4 linked regions of the Homo sapiens genome follow. The protein of the gene in region 2 interacts with the protein of the main gene of each other region in a pairwise test. Each region holds a gene or a part of one and is shown on either strand. Other genes may lie near its edges. The genes, in order: NAALADL2, LAPTM4B, NRG1 and ISLR2.

The links.
Region 1: the proteins of LAPTM4B (region 2) and NAALADL2 interact in binary tests that used the Homo sapiens proteins (3 or more experiments, as listed by UniProt).
Region 3: the proteins of LAPTM4B (region 2) and NRG1 interact in binary tests that used the Homo sapiens proteins (3 or more experiments, as listed by UniProt).
Region 4: the proteins of LAPTM4B (region 2) and ISLR2 interact in binary tests that used the Homo sapiens proteins (3 or more experiments, as listed by UniProt).

The regions. Positions count from the first base shown.
Region 1 is NC_000003.12:175,232,662-175,240,569, forward strand, and holds part of NAALADL2 (inactive N-acetylated-alpha-linked acidic dipeptidase-like protein 2), read left to right. Parts: intron 1-1,269; coding exon 1,270-1,543; intron 1,544-2,430; exon of another isoform or gene 2,431-3,148; intron 3,149-7,908. UniProt on the Homo sapiens protein: May be catalytically inactive.
Region 2 is NC_000008.11:97,778,476-97,786,383, forward strand, and holds part of LAPTM4B (lysosomal-associated transmembrane protein 4B), read left to right. Parts: intron 1-7,908. UniProt on the Homo sapiens protein: Required for optimal lysosomal function. Blocks EGF-stimulated EGFR intraluminal sorting and degradation.
Region 3 is NC_000008.11:32,754,116-32,762,023, forward strand, and holds part of NRG1 (pro-neuregulin-1, membrane-bound isoform isoform HRG-alpha proprotein), read left to right. Parts: intron 1-256; coding exon 257-359; intron 360-2,287; coding exon 2,288-2,414; intron 2,415-5,190; coding exon 5,191-5,321; intron 5,322-6,084; coding exon 6,085-6,291; coding exon of another isoform or gene 6,292-6,295; exon of another isoform or gene 6,296-7,906; intron 7,907-7,908. UniProt on the Homo sapiens protein: Direct ligand for ERBB3 and ERBB4 tyrosine kinase receptors. Concomitantly recruits ERBB1 and ERBB2 coreceptors, resulting in ligand-stimulated tyrosine phosphorylation and activation of the ERBB receptors.
Region 4 is NC_000015.10:74,125,345-74,133,890, reverse strand, and holds the start of ISLR2 (immunoglobulin superfamily containing leucine-rich repeat protein 2 precursor), read right to left. Parts: upstream 3,306-8,546; 5' UTR 3,270-3,305; exon of another isoform or gene 3,117-3,269; intron 3,076-3,116; exon of another isoform or gene 2,794-3,075; intron 2,685-2,793; 5' UTR 2,575-2,684; intron 1,145-2,574; 5' UTR 1,137-1,144; coding exon 1-1,136. UniProt on the Homo sapiens protein: Required for axon extension during neural development.

The sequences.
Region 1 (7,908 bases), on a different chromosome or scaffold from region 2:
ATGCAGCCCACGGGCCATAGGTTGAACAAGCTCAGTTTAGGAGTTGTTGAATAAACAGGGTCCTGGAGGAAGTAAGTGAGAAAAATAATGTGATGGGCAAAAATAACAGTAATATCAAAATAAACACTTAGGTAATAACTTGTATAGCAATAAGATTCTTTTAAGAAGATACATTTTTGCCCCAAAAGGAAATTTTTCTTTTTAGGTCCCTTTTTATTAATATTTCAGCCACAAAATTAAAAAAAAACTTTCTCAGGATTAAATTATTTTTATTAAGTTCTCATGTCTGATTCTGTTCTAGGTACTATACAAAATTTTTAACAGATTTGTCTGGCTTCTAGTATGTCATAAGCAAAAATCGTGTCATTGGATTATGGGATAGGTATAGAAATAAATATACAAAGTACAGAAAGTACAACACAACATTAATTTCCCATTGGTTTGGCAATCTCTGTTTTTGTTTCGGTTTTATTGGAAAACATTGTGCTCATAGCATCATGTAATTTGGCATAAAATTTGTATCTAAACAGCTCTCTCTGTATTATTTTAAATAGCAATAACTATATGTCAATCATATTGTTTTAAATGAAATCACCTTAACTATAACAAAGAAATGTCTCAACTGGAATGACACCTAGATTTTGGAATGGACTTTTAAGTGTATTATGTTGATGTTGATAGAAGGATCAGAACTAATAGAAGATTTAGTTAGCATTAATATCACTCTTCTCTGCAATGCCATAGTGCTGTATTAGTGGGTTTTTTTGTTTTGTTTTGTTTTATTTGTTTGTTTTTCTTTGGAGAGAGTCTCACTCTGTTGACAAAGCTGGTATGCAATAGTTCCATCCTAGCTCACTGCAGCCTCCGACTCCCAGGCTCAAGTGATCATCCCACCTCAGTGTCCCAAGTAGGTGGGACCACAGATGCATACCAGGACATCAGGCTAATTTATTTTTTAATGTTTTGTAGACAGAGGTTGTCGCTATGTTGCCCTGGCTAGTCCTGTGCTTAAGCGATCCTCCCTCCTTAGCATCCTAAAGTTCTGGGATCACAGGCATGAGCTACCACAAGGGCCGTCAGTTCTTAATTTAAGAAACTAATTCATTCCACTTTGTTTTGTGTTTATGTTTCATGTGATAGGGTCCTGTCTCATTCATCTTTCAATATTCCACAACATCTATTAATATTGTTCATATATTGAGCAGTCATATCTCAAAAGAATAAAGTATTCTCCTTTTTAAAAAAGTTTTCTTTTCAAATTTATTTCAGAAATTTGGTACAACTATATAAAAATGAAGATGACATGGAAATTTCAAAGAAGATTAAGACTCAGTGGACCTCTTTGGGCCTAGAAGATGTACAGTTTGTAAATTACTCTGTGCTGCTTGATCTGCCAGGCCCTTCTCCCAGCACTGTGACTCTGAGCAGCAGTGGTCAATGCTTTCATCCTAATGGCCAGCCTTGCAGTGAAGAAGCCAGAAAAGATAGCAGCCAAGACCTGCTCTATTCATATGCAGCCTATTCTGCCAAAGGAACTCTCAAGGTAATATGACCATTTGTCTCTGTCATTTACAGTGAGATGGAATTAGAAAATAACAGCTTTCATCTAAATTGAACTAACTGTCAAGATGCAACATACAAAAGTAACCATTAAATCTTTTCAGTGTGGAAGTGCCAGGAAAGAGAAGGAAGATGTGGCCCTCCTGACCCTTTTCTTGTCATATTTTGAAAGTGAAAACATGTTAGAAAAATTTAATTCAAAGGTGTTGAATGTGTGACTGAGTCATTCACATTTTGCTCTGTCCATATAGTGCAAGTCTATTTCATTCTACAGCTTTGGAGAGGCAAAATTTAATACACTGATATAGAGAAAGGGAAAGAAATGGAGAGGGTTGTGTTTTGAGATTGTGCACACACAAAAGAAATTAAGTGGAAAATTGATATGATTATTAACACATTTAAGATTTGAAACACAGCGCCCCTACTTTCATGATGGAAAACACATGTGATAAGCCAGGTGTGTATTAGTTCTTCACCTTTTCTGGGTCAGCAGATTTATGATGCAGTTTTTTTTTTTGGCATTGTGGTTAAGTGCAAGGCTTCTAGAGCCACATGGACTAGTTTTAAATCTCAGCTCCCCAGTTAACCACTGTTACTTAACCGTTGGGAGGAAACGGGCTGATTTCCTCATCTCTGTATTGGAGTCAATAATAGTTCCAACTCATAAGGTTGTTGTGAGAAAAAATTACAAATATATGTAAATCTAGGAGGACAGAGCATAGCCTATAGTAAGAACAATATACAAGTTAGATATAACAACGTGTAATTGGTCAACAGTTTCCTTTCTATGGACTAGTTTTCTAACTCTATGTAAAAGTGTAATTTTAAAAAATACACTTAGTTTTTTTTTTTTTTCCATCAAACTGTTGATTGCCTCATTTAATACCAATGAAATAATGTTATCTTTCTGACTGTTGTTAATGGCACAAATGTTTCAGAATCTAACTTATTATTAACTTTGATTGATATATGGAATGTTTAAATCATTTAAAATTACTTTGCATAAATATTTGAAATAATAACAGTAAATGCTCGTTCCTAATAGATCTTGGGGGAGTGGGAGGGAGAGGCAGATTTTCTGGCAGTCCAGCATCGTTTCTATTCTGTATATATCACACTTTGACTTTTAGCCAAAGAGCTGCATATAACTATTACCACCTTGAAATGTCTTACCATTAATTAAACTTCAATATAATATTAAATGTCTGCAATATTTCTACTGTAGGACTCATATAATTTGATTGGATTAATATTATGCTCTTTCTGGCAGGTAATAATGGTAACACACCTGTATATTAATAAAAATAGAGGAAGGCAACTGTCACTCTTTCCTTGATTCAGAAGCTTTGGCCTTAAGCCAAGACTCTAAAAGTTACCCCGATATTTTATCTAAAACTCTTTACTCTGTCTAAGCCATACGCATTTTCAACCTCTTCTTTATCCCAGTTGGCTCAGCTCATGTCTTCTCCTAAACAAAAGCATGTCTTAAACACAGAACATTCACAAAAACACCAGGAACTTGAGTGGATCCTTGGAATCTTCCCCATCTCTTTGCTTTTCAATTTCCGCTGGTGAACATTGATTATTCCTTGAAGAAGGAGATACGCAAAACTCATGAAACTACAACTTGTATCCTTATTTCCTTAGCATGGCCCTCTGTAATAACCCGCTGGCCCAGTGGATTGAAGGTAGAATAAGGTTAAATCAACTAATTTATTTAAATAAGTTCCTTAGATACGGGTTCACCACAAAAACCCTCCCTCAATGCCCGTGCACTTTCATATTGTACAGTTTCCACACTGACCAAGGAAAGAGATATCCTATCACTGTGCAGCTTCTCCGAGGCCCTTATGGGAGCATGTATTTGTTGGTCTTACTGTATAATGGGGAGATTCACTGGATCTGGAAAATTAAATTTCTATGACTCCTTTATACTCCGGACTTACTGCATAATAAGGGAAACATGGGAGATGAACCCTTCAATAACAATTTGTTTGCCTTGGTTTAAAAGGAATACTGGCCGGGCACTGTGGCTCATGCCTGTAATAGCAGCACTTTGGGGAGGCCGTAATCCCAGCACATTGGAGGCCGAGGCGGGTGGATCACCTGAGGTTAGGAGTTCGAGACTAGCCTGACCAACACAGTGAAACCCTGTCTCTACTAAAAAAATACAAAAAATTAACCGGGCCCGGTGGCAGGCTCCTGTAATCCCAGCTACTCCTGAGGCTGAGGCAGGAGAATCACTGGAGCCCAGGAGGGGAGGTTGCAGTCAGCCAAGATTGCCCCATTGCACTGCAACCTGGGCAACAAGAGTGAAACTCCTTCTCAAAAAAAAAAAAAAAAAAAGAAGAAAAAGCGGGGGTGGGTATATTAACAGATATTGTATACTTCTAATTTCTGATTCATACTCACTACCAGCAAACTCTCATAATAATGGAGGTGGTGGTGGAGGGAAGAAAGTCAGGGAGAAGGTCATTTGGAAGAATCTGTTGGGCCCTAGAGTTCCACTATTGGGCAAATCCACTTTCCTGTGATATTTGTGCAGATATTGGACACAGAGTATTGTACGTAATTGTATGTTTGCTTTTTATATTTTGTAAAAGTCTAGGCTGAATCACAAAAATGTTAATCATCCCTTTTATTCTAACAGATGATGCTGTAGGATGGATATATAAATATTCTTCGCCCTTTATTTTCTTTATTCTTTCACACTTCTGCAATTAGATAGCCTCACCTTCAAGTGTCCTGCGTTCAAGTAGTGTGTAAGAGTAATAAATGTTTGGCTATGTAGTGTCCATTGTTAGACTCCTTCACACAACTGAATGTCATCTCATTTTTAATGTAAAATAATTTTTTAGTTTAAAATATATGTAATATTACTAATATGTAGAGAGGTTTAATATTTTAAGAAATAAGTTAAAAATGTGAATTTGCAAAATTCTATAGCTTCAACCTTCTTACTTTTAAAAACTGAGCCTATTCCCTTTCTTCTAGATGTTTTTAGGCCACACCAAATTCCAAGCAGCCACTGATTGATTAGTTTATAGGGACCCTATAATTATGATTTGATTAAAATTAAAATATATTCAGGCCTAAAGTATTTTAATATCTTTTTCAAATTTAGCAGTCATTGTTTGTGGAGGCTAAGTTAGCCTCCATAAATTTTACTTGAGCACCATTTTTATTTCCTTGACAATTTCAAATCATCAGACCTTAGAAACTAGAAATGTGAATTCGCAGGATACCGATGGTGTTCTCCACCCCCAGCCTCTCTCCCATTTAGAATTATAAGTTATAAGGGAGTTGTATTCTCAGCATTTTGGTTATATGTTCGATATGTTCGGTAGCTGTCTTTTTAGATCCCTTTAAATGAAACAGTTGTTTTTCTTATCCAAATATATGTGGTTCTTTCCTCTTCTTTATTTTTTTTCTTTTTCACTTACTTTTTCTTGTCAATAGAGGACACAAAAGAAGAAGCCGGTTTACTTAAAAACACTATATTTTAACTTTCAAACTAATGCACGTGTGTATGTATCTATAACAATGGCCTTTTGTGTTGTTTTTCTGGGCATGTTGTATGACAATTTCTATTACAGCATATGGGACAATTGGGATAAGATAGGGTTCAGTAACACTTTCTTGTATGTCTCCATCTTTCACAGTTAAGGCAATGCACGCCTATGTCTAAGGATTTGACTTTGTATTGAAAGAGCCAATTTAAAAATGAAAAACTTAAGAGAACCAACCAGTGGTTTTATCTGTTTACTATCAAAGAGTACTCATTTATTTTTTAAAAAGTTAATTATTTTTTTCATTTTGCTAATGAAACTGGGTGGGGTGTTTTTTTTAAAATATTCCTGTGTAACCATATCTCTGAGAGTTTTCTACATGTTTATCTTAACAGTTTTAAGTTTTTAAATTTCCTTTTGTTTCACATAAAATAAAATCAACCTCTACTGCAGATTTCTGGAGTTATCCAAATATGCATAGTTCTAAGTCCTTATTTAGTATCCTGACACCATTTGTAAGTGTATTAAAACTGCCTTTTTTAAAATAAAGAAGAGTTTAAAAAAACTTTTAAAATGCAGCTGTTAAAAGGGAGAAAATAAAGTTAACTGTAGATGTAGAAATATACTCCATGTTTGAAATATTAGGGCTAAACAAAAGGGATTGTTAAAGGAAACAAAATGCAATACGGATAAACCTTACACCTTGTATTTGAAGAACATAATTTGAGAAATTAATTATGCAAATTAGATAAAGACACTATTTTAAGATTGTATTAATAATGCAAATCTATTATACTAAATACATATTGATTTAAATATCTATATCAAGAAAGCACATGCTATTGATACTCATTTCTTAAAACTCAGATTATATCAGTATTATAATTTTCAAAAGCAATTTCTAGGTGGCTATTATATATGCATATACAATACCTGCACATATTTTATATGCCTGTTTTAGATATATTATTGAAACTCACATGTTCTAATAGATAAGGCGCTGGTGATTTTTCTGTATCACTTTAAATCATTCCCTAATTCAAATCAAGCTTGAGTGGTTGCTGCTAAAGATTCAGGCATGCCTCTTTTTTTGATTTTGAGTACATTGTGTTTGCATGAATTTCTGTCTTGCAGAGCCATTAACAAGTTCTTAAATTATTCTAGTCTGACTGCCAGCAAAGCTTCCCACAACTTTTTGCTTTTGACAAGGTTATTTGCAGAAGAGGAGTGCCCCTTTTCTTGGAAGAGCTGTCATGTCCATTCATCATAGGACCGTTTTGTGTAAGCTTCCAATTTGTGCTTTCTGGTAACCGTCTAAACAGCATTTCTGATATCTGAGATCTACTTCAAAAACCTACTTAGTGCCAGCATGATGGATGGTGTACTTTACAACTTCTTTGTAATTCATCGTGCACTAGAAAGGTGACATAGTTTACCCCATCATAATGACAGGTGGGTCAGTAAAAGGGTCCTAAGGAGAGTTGTCCTGTCAGATGCAAAATACATATTAAAATGGATACATAAATAATTTAGCATGTGTAAGGTTAGCTTCAGGGAATAAACAGTGATTTGTATTTTTCTTAAAAGGTAAATATCAACTATAATATTATCATAAGGTTAAAGACATTGGTGGTGAGTGCTGAAAATGTCTAGTCAATTTTATTAATAGAACATATGGCTTTTATGCAATTTCTATGCAATTATTTCTTTTGTCCTTTGTGAAACACCAGCAGATGTAGAAAAGCAAATCACATATTAATATTTGCTATACATTGGTCAGATTGGTTCTGCCAAGTTGTTGCTGAGCAAGAGATTTTTTTCTTATTTCCATACATTTTATGGATTTTGTATCTTTTCATTCTGTAAAGCTTCATTTTTTTATCTGAAAGATAAGCCAAGTAATGCAGTTTTATGGAGAAACTTATTTTCAAAAACTCACTAACTGTGCAGAAGCTACATTATTATGAAGATATGTGTCACTACCCTATTCTGCAGAGAGCATAGTTCAACAGCCCAGACTAGCATCCTTTCTTAATAGGTGTGCAAATGTGGGGTGGTCAGGTCAATTCTGTACGACTCAGTGTTCTCATCCATATAAGGGGAATAGTAACAGTAACTTTAACGTTTTTTGTGGGGAAGAAATGATATAAACCATGTAAAGCACCTGACAGTTAGTACTCTATCAATGTTAGCTCTTATTGTCCTGTAAAAAGTCGACACATTTAAATGGGAGAAATTAAGAAACTACCAGAACATCAGAACAATATATCAAGATTTGAAAGAACAAACTTTTATTATATTTATCACATTATCTAAATATAATCTTTCTGTCTTCTCTTTAACAAGACAAATACGAATCATTAGGGAAGAAAATGCCTAGGCCAGTATGAATAAAAATAAAATATACATAATGCCCTGATCCTATGTTTAATTAAAAGTGAAAGCTCAAAAAAATTACAAATGAAATGTTTTATTCTTGAATGCAGAACGATTAATCATGTTGAGTTGGACCAGAAAAGCATTGCTTGTCTTTGTGTGTAAAATATCAATATGTAGTGCCTTAACGTATGAAATCTGAGCACTGTATCAAATATTTTCTCAGAAAGTCTCAAAGAGACAAAAATACAAACACTGCATGGAATCCTTGGATAACCTACAATCAGATGCCTATTTTCTCACAGCTGGAAAAACTTGGTCTTTCTCTTTTATTTTGAATATTTTCAAACAAAAGCAAACTTATCAGTGTTATGGCAAAAGGCAGAGCTATATGCATTTGGCTCTGAATGATTGCTGTTATAGATAACAATATCAGTGAGCTAGAGAAGTGGAATGGAACTGT
Region 2 (7,908 bases):
ACTTAACTTGTGCAAGCTGACTCCCAGCACATCCAAGAATGCAATTAACTGATAAGATACTGTGGCAAGCTATATCCGCAGTTCCCAGGAATTCGCCCGGTTAATAGTACCCAGAGCCCCCGCGTTTGTGTCCGGTTGATAACACCCAAAGCCCCGCGTCTGTCACCTTGTGATAGATTTAAAGCCCCTGCACCTGGAACTGTTTACTTTCCTGTAACCATTTGTCCTTTTAACTTTTTGCCTACTTTGTTTTAACTAGACTCTCCCCCTCCCCTTTCTGAACAAAAGTATAAAAGAAAATCTAGCCCCTTCTTTAGGGCCAAGAGAATTTTGAGCACTAGCCGTCTCTGGGTCGCCGGCTAATAAAGGACTCCTGAATTCGTCTCAGAGTGTGGTTTCTCTATAAGTTGCTCGGTTACAACAATTTGGTTGTCCAAAACTTTGATTTTCTTGAACTTTTTTAAGAGAGTTTGTGTGGCTAGGGAGCAGGACCACTGTAAAACGAGGCACCTTCCCTGGTTTGTCCTAACCCTTTCTCTCAGCCAGCCATCTGGATGGAATGGAGTCAATTATCAGAAAGTGGAGAGTTAAGAATTAGCCAGGTGTGGTGGCTCACACCTGTAGTCCCAGCTTGAGTCCCAGGAGTTCGAAGCTGCAGTGAGCTGTGATTGCACCCCTACACTCCAGCCTGGGCAACCAGAGTGAGCACTGTCTCTTAACAGAGGCCAAGTGCGGTGGCTCACGCTTGTAATCCCAGCATTTTGGGAGGCTGAGGCGGGCAGATCATTGGAGGTCAGGAGTTCGAGACCAGCCTGACCAACCATGGCCAGTGTGGTAAAACCCCATCTCTACTAAAAGTACAAATTAGGTGCGGTGGTGTAGGCCTATAATCCCAGCTACTTGGGAGACTGAGGCAGGAGAATTGCTTGAACCTGGGAGGCATAGGTTGCAGTGAGCCAAGATTGTGCCACTGCACTCTAGCCTGGGTGACAGTGAGACTCTGTCTCAAAAAAAGAAAAAAAAAGAGAAAGAGGCCTGGTGCAGAGGCTCACGCCTGTAAGCACTTTGGGCGGCCGAGGTAGGCGGATCACTTGAGGTCAGGAGTTCTAGACCAGCCTGGGCAACATGGCAAGATCCCGTCTCTAATAAAAATACAAAAATTATTCGGTCGTGGTGGCATGCGCCTGTAATCCCAGCTACTCAGGAGGCTGAGGCATGAGAATTGCTTGAACTCTGGAGGTGGAAAGTCCAGCCTGGGTGACAGCAAGACTCTTATCTAAAAAAAAAAAAAAAAAAGTTGGGTGTGGGTGGCTCACGCCTATAATCCCAGCACTTTGGGAGGCCGAGGTGAGTGGATCTTGAGGTCAGGAGTTCAAAACCAGTCTGGCCAAGGTGGTGAAACCTCATCTCTACTAAAACTACAAAATTAGTCGGGCGCAGTGGCAGGCACCTGTAATCTCAGCTGCTGGGGAGGCAGAGGCAGGAGAATCCCTTGAACCCAGGTGGCAGAGGTTGCCGTGAGCCGAGATCACGCCACTGCACTCCAGCTTGGGCAACAGAGTGAGACTCTGTCTCAAAAAAAAAAAAAAAAAAGAAAAGTAAAATAAAGAATAATAATAATAAAGCGGAGAGTTTTCAGACAAGGCAGATATTTAAATAAGAGTCCAGGCCGGGTACGGTGGCTCATACCTGTAATCCCAGCACTTTCGGAGACTGAGGCGGGTGGATCACCTGAGGTCAGGAGTTTTGAGACCAGCCTGGCTAACATGATGAAACCCTGTTTCTATTAAAAATATAAAAAATTAGTGGGGCGTGGTGGCACGTGCCTGTAACCCCAGCTACTTGGGAAGCTGAGAGAAGAATCATTTGAACCCAGGAGGCGGAGGTTGCAGTGAGCTGAGATCGTGCGATTGCACTCCAGCTTGGGCAACAAAAGCGAAACTCTGTCTCAAAATAAATAAATAAATAAAACAAAAAGTAAGAGTCCACAATAAGGGCTCATTTAAGTAATTTCCTGTTTTGCAAGATAGGTAAAGTGGATCTTTTTTATATGTTTTCTTATTGTTGATTCCTACCAATACCGTTTACTAAGGCTCCAAGTGTCATGTACTTTACTAGATACTTTGCATAAGGTTAATTTTTACATATTCCTGGTGAGGTAGATTTTCTTATTCCCATTTTACAGATGAGAAAACTGAGGCTTAGAGAACTTTGGTGATTTACTTGAGAGCTTAAAATCCCATGGTTGGTTTATGATCTGAGTGATGTTTTAATCTGTTCTGTTTCCACTGTTTTACTTTTAAAAGTTGTGCATGTGTTTTGGTTTTGTCTTGGAATAATAAAAGTTTTCCTTCAGTCCTGAAGTAAAGTATATTGACTTCAGGTATTTATTATTATTATTACTATTTTTAAAATTCTGGGCCACGCTAACTTTGGGAGACTTCAGGTATTTATTCTAGAGATCATTTTTTGTTTGTCTCTTTTTTTTTCTTTTATTGAGTTGTGATTTATGTACTACAATTTTTTTTTTTTGAGACCGAGTCTCGCTCTGACGCCCAGGCTGGAGTGCAGTGGCGTGATCTCGGCTCACCACAACCTCCGCCTCCTGGGTTCAAGCGATTCTCCTGCTCAGCCTCCTGAGTAGCTGGGATTACAGGTGAGCTCCGGGCTAATTTTTGTATTTTTAGTAGAGATGGGGTTTCCCCATGTTGTTCAGGCTGGTCTTGAACTCCTGACCTTGTGATCCATCCGCCTTGGCCTCCCAAAGTGCTGAGATTACAGGCGTGAGCCACTGTGCCCGGCCTTTTTTTTTTTTTTTTTTTTTGAGGAGTTTTGCTCTTATTGCTCAGGCCGAAGTGCAGTGGTGCAATCTCAGCTCACTGCAACCTTCGCCTCCTGGGTTCAAGTGATTCCTGCCTCAGCCTCCCAAGTAGCTGGTATTACAGGCACCCACCACTGCGCTTGGCTAATTTTTGTTTTCCTAGTAGAGACAGGGTTTCATTATGTTGGCCAGGCTGGTCTTGAACTCCTGACCTCAGGTGATCCGCCCGCCTCGGCCTCCCACAGTGCTGGGATTACAGGCGTGAGCCACCGTGCCCGGCAAAATTCACAGTTAAATGTAGTTTATTGAGTTGACAAATGCCTCTGTAATGTAACCCACATTCCTTGAGAACATTTCCAAACTTTCAGCAAGTTCCCTTGTGCTGTTTCCCAGTTAATCCCTGCCATATCCCCAATCACTGTAGGTAAGTTTTGCTTATTCATGTAAAATGGAATTATGCTGTGTGTACCCTTCTGTATCTAGCTTCTTTCACTTAGCATAACTTCTTTTAGATTCATTCATCTTCTTGGAGTGTTGCTTTTTATTGCTGAGTATTGTTTTTATTGTATTAATATACCACAATTTGTTTATCCATTTGCCAGATATTGGACATTTGGGTTATTTCCAATTTGGGGCTATTATAAATAAAGCTGCACTGAACATTCTTGCACAAGACTTTGGGGACTTTTTTTTTTTTTTTTGAGACAGAGTTTAGCTCTTGTTGCCCAGGCTGGAGTGCAATGGTGCGATCTCGGCTCACCGCAACCTCCGACTCCCAGGTTCAAGCAATTCTCCTGCCTCAGCCTCCCTAGTAGCTGGGATTACAGGCATGCGCCACCACACCTGTTTAATTTTGTATTTTTAGTAGATAACAGGATTTCTCCATGTTGGTCAGGCTGGTCTCGAACTCCCGACCTCTGGTGATCTGCTCCCCTCAGCCTCCCAAAGTGCTGGGATTACAGGCCTGAGCCACCATGCCCAGCTTTTTTTTTTTTTTTTTTTTTTTTTTTGTGACAAGATCTCACTCTATTGCCCAGGCTGGAGTGGCTCAATGCAGCCTTGTCTTCCCTGGCTCAAGCAGCCTTGCCATTTCAGCCTCCCAAGTAGCTGGGACTACAGGCTCACACCACCACTCCACACCACTCCAGGCTTTTGTTTTTGAGACAGAGCCTCACTCTGTTGTCCAGGCTGGAGTGCAGTGGCGCAGTCTCAGCTCACTGCAACGTCTGCCTCCCGGGTTCAAGCGATTCTCCTGCCTCAGTCTCCTGAGTAGCTGGTACTACAGGCATGCGCCACCATCCCTGGCTAATTTTTTATTTTTGGTAGAGACGGGGTTTCACCATGTTGGTCAGGCTTGTCTCGAACTCCTGACCTCCTGATCCACCTGCTTCGGCCTCCCAAAGTGCTGGGATTACGGGCGTGAGCCACCGTCCCCAGCCTTTTTTTTTTTCTGAGACGGAGTCTCGCTCTTGTTGCCCAGGCTGGAGTGCAGTGGTGCAGTCTCGGCTCACTGCAGCCTCCGCCTCTTGGGTTCAAGTGATTCTCCTGCTTCAGCCTCCAAAGTAGCTGGGATTGCAGGCATGCACCACCATACCTGGCTAATTTTGTATTTTATTTATTTATTTATTTATTTATTTATTTATTTATTTATTTTTTAGTAGAGACGGGGTTTCTCCATGTTAGTCAAGCTGGTCTCAAACTCCCGACCTCAGGTGATCTGCCCGCCTTGGCCTCCCAAAGTGTTGGGATTACAAGTGTGAGCCACCGCGCCCGGCCTTTTTTTTTTTTTTTTTTTAAATATCCTTGTTCAGTTATTTTTTAGGAACTTAGACACAGCAAATACATACCAAATGCCTCTGTGCCAGACACTGTTCACAGGGTAGTTAGCCATATATCAGATTATAAAGGATAAAAGAGGTCAGAGTAGCTGCTTCATTGGCTTTATGACCTGGTCTTTCTTTTTAATTTTCTTTCTTTCTTTTTCTTTTGTTTTTTAATTATACTTTAAGTTCTGGGATACAAGTGCAGACCTGGTCTTTCAAAGAATCCACTTGTTCACATAGAAACTCACAGTTTCCTTGTTTACTCAAGTAAAGGAAACCAGAATATCTCACCCAAAATATACCTCTTTGGTATATTTCAAGATAGTATTAGAGAAACTGCAAACAAGAATAGCTCTGAAAAGCTGCTGTTTGTGGAGATTTGCATCTTTAGGGAAAATCTGCATTAGTGAAATAAACAGCCAGGCTTTCTCTGAGCACACCTCCCCACCCCATCCCCCATGTTCAGACCTTGGAAAGATTAACCGAGAGATTGAGAGTCTGACACCTTTGAAGGTCTAATAGAGAAGTTTACCACATACCACAGGCTACCAAGTATCTTTTCTCAAGCCTTCTACCTGTGGGGTCTCATTTGCATAACAAGACCACCTTCCCTAGCCAGGCCTTTCCGTCCCTCCCTCCCATAACCTGTTTTGCCGTGATCTAAACCCCTATTCTTTCTGTAACTTCAGAAAGACATTAAAACTTAAACCATCTGGCCCTTCCTTTGAGTTTTCTTATTTCTGTGACTCCCACGTATGCGTGTGCACGTAATACATTTGTATGCCGTTTCTTGCTGTTGATCTATTATCAGTTTGTTTATTAGACTCAAATGATCAAACCTTCAGAAGTTGTAGAAGGGGGAGAATTTTCTTCACCCCTTCACAAGCCTGATAGATTTTCTTTGTATTCTGAGAAGTTCAACAACTATTGATTTGTCTGAGTACAGGATAGTAAGACCAACATCCTGTATTTGTAGAGTGATTGATAGCTTTCGGTGGGCATTCACATTTGTTCTTATTTAGACCTCAAAGCAACCCTGGGTCACGCATGATAGGTGGTGATATGTTCTTTTAAGATTAATAGCTTCTTTCCAACTGTCAGATTCTGTGACTTGGCCCGTAATTTCAGGATAGAATAACGGACTGATTTGTGGCAATTGTGTCATCTTTATTGCCTGGTGTTTTCCCCACTATGTTAGATTGTAAAAGACTAAATAGTAGGCTAAAGAGTTTGGATTTTATTCTGTAGGCAGTGGGGAACCATTGAAGAATTATGAACAGGAGCGATATGATGAAAGCAGTTTTTTTTGGTTGTTGTTTTTGTTTTGTTTTGTTTTTTGAGACGGAGTCTCGCTCTGTCACCCAGGCTGGAGTGCAGTGGTGGGATCTCCACTCACTGCAAGCTCTGCCTCCCGGGTTCAAGCCATTCTCCTGCCTCAGCCTCTCGAGTAGCTGGGACTACAGGCGCCCACCACCACACCCCGCTGATTTTTTTATTTTTAATAGAGATGAGGTTTCAACGTGGTAGCCAGGATGATCTCAATCTCCTGACTTCGTGATCTGCCCACCTCAGCCTCCCAAAGTGTTGGGATTACAGGCATGAGCCACCACGCCTGGCCAATGAAAGCAGTTTTTAAGTTAGATTAAAATGGCAGGCTGTTTCAGATGGCTGGAAAACCAGGCAGTATGTTATATATAGCTCTCTAGATACAAACTATAGTGGGTATCAGCTCTTAGTGGTATGAATAAGATGGATAGGAATTTTTACCAGTTAGTGAGTGATACAAGTCTCTCTTTCTACCTAGGTTTTCTCCATCTGATTTAAGGAATTGAACAGATTTAGATAGGGAAGGACATTGGATTTTTAAAGTACAGGTTTCCCCTCATCTAATAAAGGATCAAGGGCAGTTCTATAGAACATTGGTTGGTGGAGATTTCAGTGGTATTCAATATCTTTTTAAGCTTTTATCACACTTTTTTTTTTTTTGAGGCAGTTTCATTCTGTCACCCATGATGGAGTGCAGTGGTGCCATCTCGGTTCCCTGCAACCTCCACCTCCCGGGTTCAAGCCCTTCTCTTGCCTCAGCCTCCCGAGTACATGGGATTACAGGCGCAGGCCACCACGCCTGGCTTAATTTAGTAGAGATGGGGTTTCACCATGTTGACCAGGCTGGTCTAGAACTCTTGACCTCAGGTGATCCGCCCGCCTCCCAAAGTGCTGGGATTGCAGGCCTGAGCCTCTTATCACACTTTTATGGTAAATGTTCATTAGAATGTTTTACAGACAAGGTGGCCAATAAATAAAGATTGCTATCAAAACTGTTTATTAATACCAATCACTCTCGGATTCACTTTAAATATATTTAACTTCGACCTAAAAGGAAGAAGCTGAGGCAAAATTAATGTAAGTAGAGAGTTTATTTGGGCCAGGCTTGAGGATTGCAACCCCAGAATATAGACTGACGTTGCCCTGACTGTACACACAGATTAGCAGCAGTTATAAGTGCATTTTTAAAGACTGAAAGGGGGAACAGGGAGTGTACTGATACAAAGTTGTTTGTCAGGAATTGTCCTTGATTTACAGAAACAACATTGGTTCGTGATTGGCTATCCATTGTTGAGCTATGCATTATTAGGTTAATTTGCAGCTGCTTGTGGCAATAGCAATCAGTTTCAACAGTTGAAGACATAGCTCAAAAGGGAGGGGGAGTAGAAAGTGATTGCTGTATCGTTTTAATGTCTCTCTGGGCCTGATAATAAAGACTTGCATCCCTCAGATAAAAGTTATTTTCTCAGTAACTTAGCATAAAGTATTAAGTTAACATGAGTTTTGTCGTACAATGTGTATTATGTTTGAATGAGTAATATATTTGTTTTGTCAATTTAACTTTGAATCTTGGCCCTGAAGGAAGAGGCCACAGTTGTCCCATTCTGCCCCACCACCTTTTGGGCTGATTTGTCATTGGTCAAAGGAATGCTAGTGGAAATAATGTGTGAGCCCTAGCAACTCTCCTTTTCCTCCTCCCAGTTCTTGAGACTCTTAGTAGAGCTTTTGGAGACTGAATGAGAGTTGTTGAGTTATTGGTTAACTCATTGTGCTTGACGGAAAGTAAAAAGCAAACAAAGACCACACTTCTTCAGTTGCTCCTAACGTTTTAAGAGTTTCGAGTTGCCTCTTTGCAGTTGCAGCTTCCAAGGGAAATTGTTTCTCAGGAAAATATGTGGGAGGTTAAAAAAAAATGCTTGAGGAAATGTAATTTCAAAT
Region 3 (7,908 bases), about 65 Mb from region 2:
TAGCTTATAATTAGAAGTAATTTCTGAGTATAATATTTGTATTGTAAATGGCCCCAGCTGGCTTTTTTATATTTATGTTCAAAGCATAGTGCAGAGCATGTTGTACCTTAGCTATGTGTGTAAACGTAAAGAATTGTCATGTATTTATTTTCTTGTGAACATGGACAATGTCATGCAGCATGCCCACTGTTTGGTTGTAGTCAGTCCTGGCAAGTGGAAGTGACCTGTGATGACATCTGCTCTCATCCCTTTCCAGAGGCGGAGGAGCTGTACCAGAAGAGAGTGCTGACCATAACCGGCATCTGCATCGCCCTCCTTGTGGTCGGCATCATGTGTGTGGTGGCCTACTGCAAAACCAAGTAAACCTTCTTTCTCCATGCCTTTCTCTCTCCTTCATGCAGAGACAGCTTAGATGGCCAGGGCTTTGCAGAATCTGAGCTCCACAGCCTAGTCTTGGGGATAAAAAAAAAAGGAGGGGCAGGGGGAGATTATTTCCTCTGAATAATCCATTTTGAGGATGTCTCCTAAACACAGAAATAGAAAGCTGTTTGCCTATTCATGTAAAGATTTCTGTTCAATGACCACAGCCCCTGAGTGGATAAAGGCCTGGAGGGACAGGCTTGTATGGAAGGTATGTGTGTGGGTGGGACAGAATGAAGGCACCTCATTCTAAAAGGAGAGGGAGGGTACCAGAAGTCCATTTGAGGGCTTTAGTATAATTAAGTTATCCCCAAAAGAAACTAACTTGCACCTAGAAAAACTTCTATGAGTTAGAGACTGACTGCATTCAGGGTGCAGTAGTACCTTCAGTTCAAAGGACTACTGAGAACAAATCCAATTTACACTGAAAATTACGAGATAAAGGAAACCTTTCGTGGTATCTGAAATGCAGTTTTCTGAGTTATAGTGATTATTATTATTATTTTTAAATTCTATCTAATTAGGTTGCCAGTATGAATGCTCTCACAGCCTGAGATGTAAAAAAGGAATCTCAGGGGAGGAAAATGAAGCAAAACTTTCTTTGAAAACATAAGAGAGAAAACATTAGAATAGATTTGGGTTCCCTATGTTTGGTCTTGAAGTTTGGTCCGTATTAACAAATTCAATTACTATGTGACATGGATTCTCTTCACTTTTCTCTCCTACATATAACTTACATTTCAAGCCTAATATGTTAAATTAACAAGGTTTTTGAAAAAATGTTGCTGCACGATACTCTGTTGCCAAACCATCCATGGGAATATTTCATAATCTGAATGTTGCATTGAGGAAGAAAAATAATATGCTTTTATGCCACAAAATCCAAAGCATGGATTGTATTTTGTCAATATCCCATGATTTAGTGTGTTGCCAGAATTAAGGGATAGAGATAAGCCTTCCTGGAGTCGACCTGGTGAGTCTCATTAGATTCCATCTCAATATTCGCTGCCTAATTGCACAAAAAGCGTTACCAGAGTAGGAACATGTTACGATTGTGCCAAAATCCGCTGGCAAAATATGTCCACATTCTCACGCGTATACATGGGATACACTCACAAACATGCTAACTGTGTATATTCAAAACTCAGTTCATTTTCTTAAGAGACCCCAGGAAAAGCTATAAATGAAATCACTCTTATAAATTCTACAGCACATTTTTTTTTTTTAGACAGAATCTGGCTCTTTCACCCAGGCTAGAATGCAGTAGCACAATCTCAGCTCACTGCAACCTCCCCCTCCCTGGTTCAAGTGATGCTCATGCCTCAGCCTCCCGAGTAGCTGGGACGACAGGTGCACGCCACCAGCCCGGCTAATTTTTGTATTTTTTGTAGAGACAGGACTTCTCCATGTTGCCCAGGCTAGTCTCAAACTCTTGGACTCAATTAATTCTCTTGCCTTTGCCTCCGAAAGTGCTAAGCTTACAGGAATGAGCCACCCCACCCAGCCCAGCACAAATTATTATCTAAGACAAATAAGTGTCCATTTGTAAGACTTAGGCAAAGATGGATTGATTAGGAAATTTGTGATTTTAGTCAATTATCAAGTTATTTGTGTTATCCTATTTTTTTCTTGTCTCTCAGTAAAACAGCTAAATTTCCATAAGAATCCCAGGTGGCTTTTAAAATCTGTTTGGTAAGGATGTGTGGTTTCACTTATTCTGGGATACAGTGGACATACTCCCTTCCCTCTTCCTCATCACCAGTCTACTGCCTTGAACTACTCATAGGTGTTGGTAGAATAAAGACTTGGCTCTACTATGAAATGAAAATAATCAAAAAAAAATAAATGCTCCCTTTCTTATGTCCAGGAAACAGCGGAAAAAGCTGCATGACCGTCTTCGGCAGAGCCTTCGGTCTGAACGAAACAATATGATGAACATTGCCAATGGGCCTCACCATCCTAACCCACCCCCCGAGAATGTCCAGCTGGTGAATGTACGTTGACTCTGGCCAGTGGAAAAAACTGAGCCTCTCTCCTTTGTTCAGACGCCTTGAAGTTTATTTTCGAAAGCTCTTAAGCTTTTAGCTGCTGCCATTAATCACCATGGCTTCCAGGAATCCAGGTTTTTGCCAGGAGAAAATAATGGGAACATTTTTAAAAGTGGATTTGGTTACTGTAAAATCAGCACATTTCCTCTTATAAAGTGTTCATTAAGGGGTTGGAATAATAGTGTTGGGTTTGTTCTGCAAGGAGGCCATAGCTGGGGCTTGCGTGGAGAGAGTGGGGAGAAAACAAATTTAATAGTACGATAATCAAAAAGAATGTTTTCATATATAACTTGGAAATACAGGCTACTCCATTCTGTAACTGATTAGTACAGATAACCGAGCAAAGAGCTTTAGAGTTATTTTCTTAGGGCAATTCACAGTGCCTGATGATTTACTGGTTATGATTTCCAAAGGATTCTGATTTCCTTTAGGGCGTGGAAAGGTCAAGTGACTTATCAAACACCCTTCTCAGTAGCAAAAGAAGAGTGTCATGCCAGCTTCTTCCCTGGCCCTTTCTAAATGATGTCAAGCCCTCCAGATGAAATATATCCATAATCATTAAAATATTTTTTTCATACTGTACCAAACACTCAGCATTCAGTTTTTTAAATACAACTAGATCATAGAATATTAGGTTCTGGAGAGTTTGAAGATATTATCTTTCAAATCTCTCTTTTTCTTTTTACAGATAAGGGCCAGAGCCGCACCATCTCTTGGCTTTTGGAGTATTGCTCTTTATATTCCAGCATCATCCTTCTTATTTTCAAATTATTGCTCTGATGTATGGTTTTTTTAATACACAAAGCTTGAAGCTTATATTGTAGTACCATTTTCTATCCTATAGAAAAAGGCATATTTTGAATGGAACAGATATATCATAGACCCAACTACAGAGTTGGTGGTTACTAAACTATCAGCAAGTCTTGTAGCAAAAACCTTCAAAACTTTGTTGGAGCAAGGTGCTTATAGGTTAACACACTCTGTTGCCTTTTCACCCTCTAACAGTGTTCATCACAATGTTCTCCACATTTGATAACGATATTCACTACAAAAGGAACTATAATCTGTCACTCTGCATGTTATAATATATAAACGGTAGAATGACTGCCTAGATTACATTTACTGCTCACATTGTGCATCTTTGGGCTTTAACTTTTCTCAACCTTATTTCTTCAATATAAAAACAGACCTAAAAATAATACCTACTTCAGAGACTCCTTGTGAGCCTTAAATAAGGTAATTTGCATAAAACACTTAGTCTAGTGGCATTTAGTGAGTGTTCAATAATTGTTAAGTATTTTTTTCATTAGATTCACTGAGCTTATGTTGCCTTCCAAAAAGCAATAGTGAAATGGTTCAGGGACTGGAAGTAGGTCACTGTGTATCCTTTCCTTAAATCAAGCTAGCTGTACTTCCCAGGAAGATCCACATGGAATAGCCTTTCCACTAAGAGAACCAGCTAGAGTTTCAAGCATAATTCAAGCTGTATATTTTTGGATCTCCCTGAATATATTTAGAGCCCGCAGACCGTCAGATTATAAAGTGCCTTATTTCATCAAAGAGTATTCCTTTCTATTGGTTTTCCTATTATTTAACTCAATTTGGTATAAATACTAACAGCAATTAAAACACAACTTCAAAAAGGGGCCTCCCTCCCTAATAGAAACAGTAAAAACTACTGTGGTTTGCTGATAAAAATAAAGTAGACTCTGACTAGGCATGGTGGCTCACACCTGTAATGCCAGCACTTTGGGAGGCAGAGGTGGACGGATCACCTGAGGTCAGGAGTTTAAGACCAGCCTGGCCAACATGGTGAAACCCCATCTCTGCTAAAAATACAAAAATTAGCTGGGCATGGTGGCATATGCCTGTAATCCCAACTACTCGGGAGGGTGAGGCAGGAGAATTGCTTGAACCGGGAGGTGGAGGTTGCAGTGAGCTGAGATTGCACCACTGCTCTCCAGCCTGGGCAACAGAGTGAGACTCCATCTCAAAAAAAAAAAAAAAAAAAAAAAAAAAGGAGAAGAAAAGAAAAGAAAGAAAGAAGAGAGAAAAGTAGAATCTACCTGCATTAAATAGAAATGTCCTCCATATATTATGTGCTTTGTCAAGATGTGTGCATTGACAACAATTGTTAAGTCCCTTATCAGTAGCCTTGTTAGCCCTACCACTGCTAACAAGTTAAACATTTCAGTGACATTAGTAGGGCAACATGGGCACTAGGAAATGGAAGGAGAAAGGTAGGCCCAACATATAGAGATTCTGAATATTTTTTTCTAGTGCTTTGAAATTTGAAACTATACAAATCACCTGTCTGCTTCTATTTCAAATAGCATTTAGCCTTCTTCACCTTGCAATACCATGAAACAAATGAATGTTGGATGGATATTTGTATGGAATTCTAGTCATTAATTTAAAATAAAATAGAAGAAATAGGACTTTTGCTGATAAAATGTAGTTGGAATGATGGGCCGTACATTGGATGCACATCCAGAGAGTATTTTTTTTTTTAACTCTATTCATCTAATCTAAAAGCCACAGTAGCCAGGACAGGATTTTCCACCTGGCCATTGGGGAAATGGAATTTATTACAAATCAGCTGTACAAAAATAGATTTGTGTGTTTCTGACAGTGTTAACGTTTTTATTTACATGACAATATTAGTGCTTTGATTGACATGAATCTACGTGAATCTTCAAGTTGTGTCTCTTTGTTTATCCAGCAATACGTATCTAAAAACGTCATCTCCAGTGAGCATATTGTTGAGAGAGAAGCAGAGACATCCTTTTCCACCAGTCACTATACTTCCACAGCCCATCACTCCACTACTGTCACCCAGACTCCTAGCCACAGGTATGAGAATTTAAAAATTCCACGGCTTTTCTCTCAGAATGAATTGTTGCACATTGCCTTTTGATATCCCTGCCTAAGAAAGGAGGCAGTGAAATGGATGGTCTTTGGGCAGCAACAGATTTTGAAAATCAACTGGCTTTGCCCTTAATTCCTGCATAAATTTGAACCTCAATTAGGTAACTCCACAGGGCCGTTGTTTCCCATTCCTGAGATTGTCTTTACTCATGCCCTGCTACTCACCGAATTGCTACACTGGGACAAGTCTGTCTTTGGCTCTGCAAAATACTTAGAAGTCAATTTCTTTCAGTAATTGGATTGCCCTGGGAAATGCACATGAGAATTGGTTAAATAGTGGAACCCTAAATTCTCAAATGCCCTGGTGATCCCCACCTGAGTGCACTTACTCTACCAAGACCAACACTAGATCTCCAAATGTAGCTCATACAAGGAAATGTTTCTTTAATCTAAGCCACTCAAGAACAGAGAGATTATAATTATATACTGAGGAGTGGCATTCGAAAATATTTATTGAATGAGTGGACAAGTGAATATACTGTATCCTTACAAAGCCAATCTGAATCAAGATCCTCTCTATAGCAAATTACCTTTGTGGCGATTCTATTCGGAGACAAGTGATGTTACAGTGAGCTCCGGGTGCATCAGTAGTTTGAAACATTTGTCAGAATCCATTCCTTTCATTTCCATTTTTTTGCATATAATTTTTGCACGAAATATCTGATTGTCTCTCCCATTTCCTCCGCAGCTGGAGCAACGGACACACTGAAAGCATCCTTTCCGAAAGCCACTCTGTAATCGTGATGTCATCCGTAGAAAACAGTAGGCACAGCAGCCCAACTGGGGGCCCAAGAGGACGTCTTAATGGCACAGGAGGCCCTCGTGAATGTAACAGCTTCCTCAGGCATGCCAGAGAAACCCCTGATTCCTACCGAGACTCTCCTCATAGTGAAAGGTAAAACCGAAGGGCAAAGCTACTGCAGAGGAGAAACTCAGTCAGAGAATCCCTGTGAGCACCTGCGGTCTCACCTCAGGAAATCTACTCTAATCAGAATAAGGGGCGGCAGTTACCTGTTCTAGGAGTGCTCCTAGTTGATGAAGTCATCTCTTTGTTTGACGGAACTTATTTCTTCTGAGCTTCTCTCGTCGTCCCAGTGACTGACAGGCAACAGACTCTTAAAGAGCTGGGATGCTTTGATGCGGAAGGTGCAGCACATGGAGTTTCCAGCTCTGGCCATGGGCTCAGACCCACTCGGGGTCTCAGTGTCCTCAGTTGTAACATTAGAGAGATGGCATCAATGCTTGATAAGGACCCTTCTATAATTCCAATTGCCAGTTATCCAAACTCTGATTCGGTGGTCGAGCTGGCCTCGTGTTCTTATCTGCTAACCCTGTCTTACCTTCCAGCCTCAGTTAAGTCAAATCAAGGGCTATGTCATTGCTGAATGTCATGGGGGGCAACTGCTTGCCCTCCACCCTATAGTATCTATTTTATGAAATTCCAAGAAGGGATGAATAAATAAATCTCTTGGATGCTGCGTCTGGCAGTCTTCACGGGTGGTTTTCAAAGCAGATACTGCCTTCAAGATGGCCCTTTATTCCAGAATGTTTTGGCTTTCCTTTGGGGAGATTGGGTTGGGTTGGGGGAGTTATAGCAAAGGTAAAATGAAGAATGGAGGAAAGTAAACAAAGAGATATTAAATAGTAATATTGAATTCATAGATTCTCTTTCTCCATTTTCACCTGAGCTGGAAGATGACCAGTATTTCTAGCCCATCAGTAAGCTGTTACCTGTTCCTATTTGTTTGCAAGTCTGCTGGGTTTTACTTTATTTTATTGTCATCTCAGGCTAATCTTTGACCATTTACTAAAAGGTTTACATAATGTCAAATCCATACTTATGTGGTAGTTACATGGGAGGAGATGACTTTGATAGAGTCTTTCCACTCTTGGACTGGGAAGTTACTTCCAATAAAATAACACATTCTGGGCTTGAAGGCCTGTTGCTTACTTTTGCAAGGGCCTTTCCTTCAAAATGATATTTTAGAACTTTGTGGAATTTATGAAATCAGAGGTAAGCTATTACCTGTTTGTTTGCAAGTCCGCTGAATTTTATTTTATTTTATTTTATTTTATTTTATTTTATTTTATTTTATTTTATTGTCATCTTAGTCTAATCCTTGACCATTTACTAAAAGGTTTACATAATGTCAAATTCATACTTGTGTGGTAGTTCCATGGGTAGGGATGACTTTCATAGACTCTTCCCACTCATGGACTGGGGAGTACTTACAATAAAAAATGACAGGCTGGGCACGGTGGCTCACGCCTCTAATCCCAGCACTTTGGGAGGCTGAGGTGGGTAGATCACGAGGTCAGGAGATCAAGACCATCCTGGCCAACATGGTGAAACCCCATCTCTACTAAAAATACAAAAATTAGCTGGGTATGGTGGTGCTGCCCTGTAGTCCCAGCTACTAGGGAGGCTGAGGCAGGAGAATTGCTTGAACCCAGGAGGTGGAGGCTGCAGTGAGCTGAGATGGTGCCACTGTACTCCAGCCTAGGCAACAGA
Region 4 (8,546 bases), on a different chromosome or scaffold from region 2:
TTTGGGGGCCCGGTTGCTGCCACCGCCACGCGTATTGACGTAGAGTTGGCGCCCAGCTCATTGTGTGCACGGCAAGTGTAGACGCCCGCCTCCTTGGCACTCAGGAGGGGCACCAACAGGGAGCCATTTGCGAGGGCCAGGAAGCGCGGTGTGGCTGGGGGCGCCGGCCAAGCGGGTGCTGGAGTCGGCGTTTGGGCTTGGGTCTGCGTCAGCAAATCCCCATCTCCTTCTCCCTCTCCTTCCTCCGCCCCAACCCCGTCGTCCTCCCCGCTCAGAACCGGTGGCTCTAAGACTACGGTGCCACCGGGGATCTGAAGTTGCCATTGCAGGCGAGGCGTAGGGTGGCCGTCGGCGATGCAGTGTAACACGAACGCCAGTCCTGCGCGCAGTGGGGTGCCGGGTGCTTCAAGCGGTGGCTCGGCACTCAGATGCACGCTGGGCGGTGCACAGGGCAGGGCGGGCAGGCGGTACACCGGCACCCCCTGCAGCGCGGGAGGCGAGGCACAAGCAATGGAGTCGGGCTCGGGTAAGGACACCCGGGTGCTCGCGGCCCAGGCCTGCAGCCACACAAGGCCGCAGCCGCAGTGGAAGGGATTGTGATAGAGTTGCAAGTGTGACAGCGCGCTAAGCGCGTCGAAGGTGCCAGGCGCCAGCGTACGCAGCCGGTTGTTGTTGATGCGCAGGGAACGCAGGTCGGGTAGCGCACCGAGTGCGTCCCGGGGCAGAGAGCCCAGGCGGTTGTGGTTCATTTTGAGCAGCTGCAGCGCGCTCAGGTTGCGCAGGTCGCTCCACGGAAAGCTGGATATGAAGTTGTGGCTCAGATCGAGGTTCTTGAGCTGACTCAGCACGGCCAGTGCGCCTGGCTCCACGGTGCGCACCTCATTGTGCGCCAGCCACAGCGACGTGACCTGTGTGACGTCGGCGAAGGCCCCGCGCCGCAGCACAGTGATCTTGTTCGCGGACAGACTAAGCGTCGTCACGTTGGCAGGCAGTCCTTCCGGCACCTCACGCAACTCTTTGTAAGCGCAGTCCGCGAACTGGTGAGCGTACTTGTCCACGCAGGCGCACGGCTCCGGGCATGATCCGGCCACTCCTAGAAGCGCCCAGACCAACCACAGGGCCCGAAGGGGGAACATCGCGGCTCCTGCAGATGGAAGCCAGGTGAAGAAGAAAGAAGGTGACTCACTGAACCCCAGCTTACCTCCCCTATCAAGCTGTGCCTCCGCAAGCCCGTTTAGCACTAGTTCCAGGGCTCCGGTAACCTCCTCTATGGCCAGGAGCCTCTCTGAAGTGAAGGTCAATAAAAATCTCGAGGTTCAACGGATGCTCCCTCCCAGGGCCCTAATTTCCTTTTCCAGCGGCCCGGTATATCGCCCTTTTTTCTCTTCCTACTCCTTCCTTCACGCTGGAGCTGGCCCCTCCGTGGGCTCCGCAGCTCGCCCATCTCCAGCGGGCTCCTCACGTACCCCTCTCTGTGTTTCTAAGCCTTCGTTTAACCTGGTGAAATGGATCCTACCCAAGAAGGACATTTTTGTCCGTGACTGGCTGTCCTCCCTGGAACCTTTGTCCCACGCACAGCACTCGCACACACGCCCATGCAGGCACACAACAATACAAACAGACGCGGGGCTTCATAATCAAACCGCCAACTTCTGCAGGGGTTTAGAGGACCTGATGCTCAATTAGGAGGCTCACAACACATTTCCTAAACTCACAAACACATATGCACCCAGACATGGACACAATAGACCCTGCAGACCTCATTGTTCTCTTAACCAGCATTTGTACGTGTTTTCCACCACGGTACAAAGCGCTTTCCTGTCCATTGTGACAATTGACAGACACAAGGACACAAGTCCTCACACGAACCGACCCACCCACAAGAACACAGGCATGTGCCTGTGTGTGCATACAGCCCTCCACTGTGACCGAAACCCAGCAGAGAAGCAATAGGAGGACCTGCACTGCACGACTTGAGATGTGGGATCTGGGGAAGCCCATCCCCATGCCCTACTGCATCTAAGGCCAAAGTCACCTGCCCGGGGCTGCAGCTCCTGTGAGGGGAGAAGAAGGGCTGCTCTGCCAACCTTCCTTACGGGGAAGGAGGTTCTCCCCCATGTTTGGACCAGGTGTGTTGGGAAAGCGGTCACTAGAGCTTCCTCTCAGGTCCCTCAGGCGGCTCCCATTGGGCAGAGGCGTCCTCAGCCAACAGGTCATGGGGCTGCCACTAGCTAATGAAGCTGGAGAAGATGAAAGATTCTGCGCCTTTCTCCACAGCTCTGCGGTGCCTAAGGACCCCCTCCCCATAACACCTTAAGCCCGGTCACACAAACGAACTTGCACAGACTCCCTGCCCCCATTTGGAGCGCCTGTCAGGTTTGGCAGAGCCCCTCCCACAACTTGTCTTTGGGAACCTGCTCCTTCACTCTGCCTTTGCTCTTCTGGGAGGGTCCCTTCCCTCCCTTCCCGGTTCCTGCCAGACAGCACCCCCACCAGCCCCGCACCCCATCAGGTGCCCTAGGCTGGACCTAACCCCACCTGGGTCAAGGTTGTGGGGTGGCCCCCATTGCTTACCCAATATTCGCCGACTCTCAGTAAATGTCCTGGGGCTGAAACCCCTTCTCCAGACCCGGCGTGGCAGAGCAGGGAAGATAGCCCAAGCAAGATACACGCATGTGTTGTGGCTGTGGGGAAAACGGGGGGCGGGGGGCAAAGAAAGGGACAGGTAAGTTTGGGGACTTGGTGGCCCCAAAGTACCACTTCAATTTTTCCTTTTGCGTCCGTTTCCCCCACCTCTCTGGCTGCAGGTTGGAGAAAGTCCTTGCGCACTCCCGGGCCTGGCGGGGACGCGCATAGCCTCTCCCGCCTCCTGCTTGGTCTACTTTTGTTAAAGCCACGGAGACCCTCCCCAAGGCCAAGACACGTCGGTCATAAGGGGCATCCCACGCCCACTGTCCTGGCTGGGCTCTTCGCAGCCTACTGCACCCCCATAACCCACGTACCCCCACATTTACACAGCCGCTGGCATTGTTACTGTCCCTGATCACACCACCTCCCCCACCCCACGTTCAAACACATTCGCGCACACAGTCCCTCACACCCTCCCCATAGCCGACCTTCACAGTTTACAATCATCCATGGTCAGGTAATAATCGCATCAATGTGTTCAGCCCCTGCTACATTCACACGCATTTTCACGGGCACACCTGCACCCGGGACACTTACCGTTCTCCTCTCGCACACGCATACACACATTCACGCGAACTCACCCTCACGCGCCTGTCCCGCCAGCGCCCGCGAGCTTCGCTGCTAATTGAATGCAAGCCGCTTTTACGCCCTGCAACACGTGAGACAAACCATCTTTGAGGAATTTGGGGGAAGGAAAGGCGCGCGGCTGAAGTGGGGGGGGAAGGCGTGTCTTTGCCTTTAAACTCTTTTTGCAAATGCAGGCGGTGGCACCGACAGACTTCGAGCGGGACCCGCTGAGCTGCGCGCAGCCGAGCTCGCGCGGACCCTTCCCTCCCGCACCCCCCGCTGCTAGCCGCCTCCTCCCCGAAGCCACGTTCAACATGATGCATAATTGATAGTGTTAGCAGAGCGCCGCACCCTCCCTACCATTTTTGCCTGGATCTGGGCTGATATAAGCCCTAGTCTCCCCCGCCCCGCCGCCCCAACCCCCCCGCCCCGCCTGCTAGTCTAACCCGACACCAGAACGCACAGCCCTGCAGGGCGTGCTGGGAAGGGACACCCCCCTCCCCAGCCCACCGCAGCCCTGCCCAGCCTCTTAAGCCGGAACTCTTTACTTCTGGTCTTTTGTGGCTAAACCAGCGCTTGAAGCCCACTGCCCGACGCGTTGGCCTGCGCGCACCGCGGGACAGGTGGAGCAGGGGGAAGCTCTCTCGAGCGCACCCAAGCACCTCACTCCAGGTCTTGCCTGCTCCAGGAGAACGGGGCACGGAAGCTGCAGCAGACAGTAGCACAGACAAGGATGGTGGCAAAACGTCCGCTACTCTTGAGCACGGTGGGCTGGGGACTTCAGGCCCGAGCATTTCTCCCATATCTGCCCCCCATATCTTCACAGCCTCTCAAGCAGACACACGGTCAACCCCACACGCACTATCCCCCAAGCCGCGGTGGCCCCTCACCGCCCCGCCGTCTCACACCCTCACACAACAGCCGGCTTCGGCAGACTCGCTGTTCCCGACTGTCGCTCCCTAGCTCTGATGAAACCCCGACATTTCTTTCAGCGACGAGGAGGCGGAGGCGCGGCGATGTCGAGGCATTTGGCTAAAACCCGGTTTCCGCCCCCCTGCGCTGCCCACGTTAGCCCTGGAGACAGCTACCGGCCATAACCAGGAAAGGGGTTCAGGCTCCGGGAGACACGCAGAATCCCCACCCATTCTGTAGCCACTGAGCTCTCTGGGAGCACCAAGCCCCACAGCCATCACCCCGGGCCATGGGGGTCTCTCGATGGCGAGGGTTTGGGGCTTCCGTGGAGATCAATACCCCGATTTGAGTGTTGAGCATCTTAATGAGCTAGGGGAGGGGGTGGGGAAGAGAGACAGGCTAAGAGCGCAGCGTCTAAAGAGACCACCCGGCCCGGGGTTCCGAGGCTGCTTTGTAAATTAAATATGAACAGACTGGTGCGCTCACACTCCAAGCGTCCCTCCCTCTCCCCTACTCCTGCCGTCGCTACGGGCGGCCCAGCGGGCTGAGACCATCGCATCTTGCTCAGCCCCAGTTCAGAACACAGAACTTCACACCGCCTGCTCGGGCCTGGAGTCCCCCCCCGCCGACCCATGGGGAGGGCGCAAGGCGCCTTTCAGGGAAGGTGTCTTCGAAAATGGTCGAGGGGTGAGAGCACTGTGACCCGTCCCTGCCGGGGATCCTGTGGTGGGACAGCCAGGATTGGGTCCCTAGCCCGGGGTGAGTCCCTGAGGTTTCTAGGCCTTGTGGGGTCGGGAGAAGGAGGCAGACGGCGGGGCCAGCACACCCTTCTTTGTCTGCCGAACAAGGTGGGGGTGGGGGCGGGGAGCGGCGTCTTGGGCAGTTGTCCGGGTGTTGGGAACCCTGAGGGGGCGGTCTTGGGAGCCTGTGCCTGGGAAGGATATTTGGAGGCAGGGGCCCAGCAGCGGGAGCTGAGTCCGGTCCGGCATGGCGTGTCCAGGGGACTTTTCGGGACTGAGTGAGGGGCGCCAGGCGGGGAGGCTCAAGGCCCTCCGCCGGTTTTTACCTATTTTCTTTCTTTCTTTTTTGCCTTCCGCAGGGAGGCAGAATCTGGGTAATGGAAGGGAGAATGGGCTCGCTATCTGCCCAGAGCTTCCCTGGACTGCAGGAACCCGTCCTATAAGCAACCCCGAAACTTCGGGGCCCGAGGACCAGGGAAGACCCCCTTTCCTTGCTGTCTTGACAGGGTTGCAGAAGCCAAGGAGTTCGGCAGGGAGACGGGGCTCCTGGGGTGGTTAAGGACGCGGTGACCACCCCTGGGCGGGAGCTGACTCCCGCGGGCCCGGAGGCTCTAGCTCACTCTACAGCAAATGCTTTTGTTCCCGGAGGCTGCCCTGGGGGAAAGACGCCCCTTACCCCTGCCTTCGACCCTGGAGAGCCCAGTGCCCGCCCGGGCAGGGCTGGAGCCCGAGTCGCCCCAGGCAGAGTCCGCCGAGGCCTGGGGTGGGAGCCGCGACTTCTGGATCTGCCTCCGAGCTCAGCTAGAAGACTGCGCGCACCTCGTCCGGCGCCGTCCGGCGCGCAGAAGCGGGTCTAATGTTTATAACGTTAATAATGACAGTTAGGGAGGGCTGTGGAGCCGGGAACCAAGACCTCATCCCGCCGCCGCCCACGTCTTTGATCATTAAAGAAACAGACAACTAATCAGGTGTGTGGAAGTAGGGGTGGGGGAGGGGAGGGTGACAAGGTTCCAAGCCGCTAGCGCAGAGGGTCCCAGATTCAGAATCTGCCGAATCCAGACTAAGGCTTCTAACCAGGCTGGAGCCGACCCCAGACAGACCCAGGAATGGAGAGCTGGAGCCCCTGGCCGCTTTCTGCGGATCGACCCTTAACTTCAACGTCGCGAACCCGGAGCGTCGGGAGGGTGGGGAGGGTTGAAACCGGTTGGATCTGGGGACTTGCTCCAGCGACTCCATCCGCGCTGTTCTAGGGCCCAAGCCTGGTCCGCGCGCGCCCCCTGCTGGAAGCCGCTTGCCGGGCGCAGAGGCGGGTCAACGGCAGAGGGTGCTGGCTGGGCGAGGAAGATGTGGCTGGAACCCTGCACCAAGGCGACCGCTGCTCACGGCTCTGCAGTCCCGCGGCGCGATACGCCAGTGGGGCGCGCTTAACCAAAGTCCCGAGGCTTTACTTCCCGTGCCCACCCAGTCTATGTCCCAGGTATCAGCAACCTCTGGTCCACTACACAACACAGGCGCTGTCCCTACTTCGCGCTGCGTAGTTTCCAGTGCCCAGGGCGTCTCCTAATTCTTGAGCGACTAGTCCCTGGCACAAAACCTTCCTATACACCTCTCCCACTCTCCCTTCTCTCTGAGTCTTATGACTTTGTCAGGGGCCTATTAAAATAAATGTCTGAGATCTGGAAAAAAAAATCTGTTGGCGCTAACAGGGGCAAAGAAAACTGCAAAATTGGAAGTAATCGATGTTTGATTGAATGTTTAAGACATGCGACATTGTGCAAACGATTCTGTTGCAACTGCACTCAGAGTTGTACTTGCCCTTGTATTTTAATGTGGCACGCGGAGGATTTAATGGACTTGCCTAAAGATGTGGGAAGGGCCTCTGAGAATAAGAAAGCCGGGGCCCAGATGGGCATCAAACATCCCCAGCATAGCAGCCGGTTAAGGCTGCGGAGACCTTCCCCAAGGCTGCCCTCCAGTCAGAAGCCCCTGAACACTCACTACTTCCCATCTTTCAGCTTCTGCGCGCACAGACACACACACACACACACACACACACACACACACACACACACACACACACACACACAAATGTTCTCTCCAGCCCCACACCCTCAAGAAGCTGCTTTCCTTTTCTAATTTCCAGTCGAAAGATCACTCCTCAGGGAAGCCAGGCCCTGTTTATACTCCCTCCTCCGGCCTTTCCTTGTACAGGTTCTATGTAGTCGTCAGGCGGGCAGGTCCTAGCGTCAGACTCCATTATGTACTGACTGTGTGTCCTTAGCCAAGCTATTTAACCTCTCTGTGCCTCAAGAAAAAAAGGCATAAATAAGAGTACTGACCAGGCGCGGTGGCTCACACCTGTAATAATCCCAGCACTTTGGGAGGCCCAGGCGGGCGGATCACAAGGTCAGGAGTTCGAGACCAGCCTGACCAACATGGTGAAACCTCGTCTCTGCTAAAAATACAAAAATTAGCCGGGCGTGGTGGTGCATGCCTGTAATCCCAGCTACTCAGGAGGCTGAGGCAGGAGAATCTCGGGAGGCAGAGGTTGCAGTGAGCCGAGATAGTGCCACTGCATTCCGGCCTGGGCGACAGAGCGAGACTCTGTCTCAAAAAAAAAAAAAAAAAAAAAAAAATACCTATGCTTTTCGGTCACCTTGAGGATTAAATGAATCAATGTACGCAAAGCACTTAGTACCTGACACTTAGTGCTCAGTACTTGAGATACGTTTTTTATATAATAGCTGAATTAGCCATTATTATTGCCTTGCAGAGTGGGACACAAGTTTGATAAAAGGTTCTGCTGCACACACCCCTACAGGCTTGTGTCCTGCCTCCTCCACAGGGGAGCACCTTGGCTCTGCCCCCAGACCTCTTCACCACCACCACCCCCTTTGCACACACACACACCATGGGTATATGTAGAAACCAGATTTACTATTATTATTTGTAAAGGTTTCTAGTTTCAGATACTTAGACTGATGCTTGTCAGCATGCCTGTTTGCAAAGAGAGACCCGCAACTGCAGACTTGGTGGAAGGTTTTTAATTAAAACTACATTCTGTTTAAGTATTTATTGGACTTTGTGACTTTAATTATTTTCTAGGGAAAAACAAAAAAATCCACATTTGCCTATGAGAAGACTGTTGATTTCAGAGGAAAGTAGCAACCTGTTGCAGTTTGCTGGAGGCAACTGAGAGGAATTTTCTGAATGGTTCAAATGAAGCTCGACATTATTAATAATCTGGGATCCAGCCCATGACCCTCCTCCCAGCATTTTCATGAAATTAGCTTAACGTACTGGCAAGGCCTTTTATTGCCATCAAAATTAACAGCAGCTCTTCCAGTGGCAGCTCATGTAATTATCTGGGTCTGTGCTTGTCTCACTGAATAAGAGGAACTCCTGCCTGGAAGAGGCGATACTCCTGCATTCAAAGGGGAACATGGCTGAGCAAGATGGCTCATGCCTGTAATCCCAGCACTTTGGGATGCCAAGATAGAAGGAATATTTGAGCCCAGGAGTTTAAGACCAGCTTGGGCAACATAGTCAGACCTCATCTCTACATTTTTTTTAAATTAGTTGGGCGTGGTGGCACACAACTGTGGTCCCAGCTACTCTGGAGGGAGACTGAGACCAGAG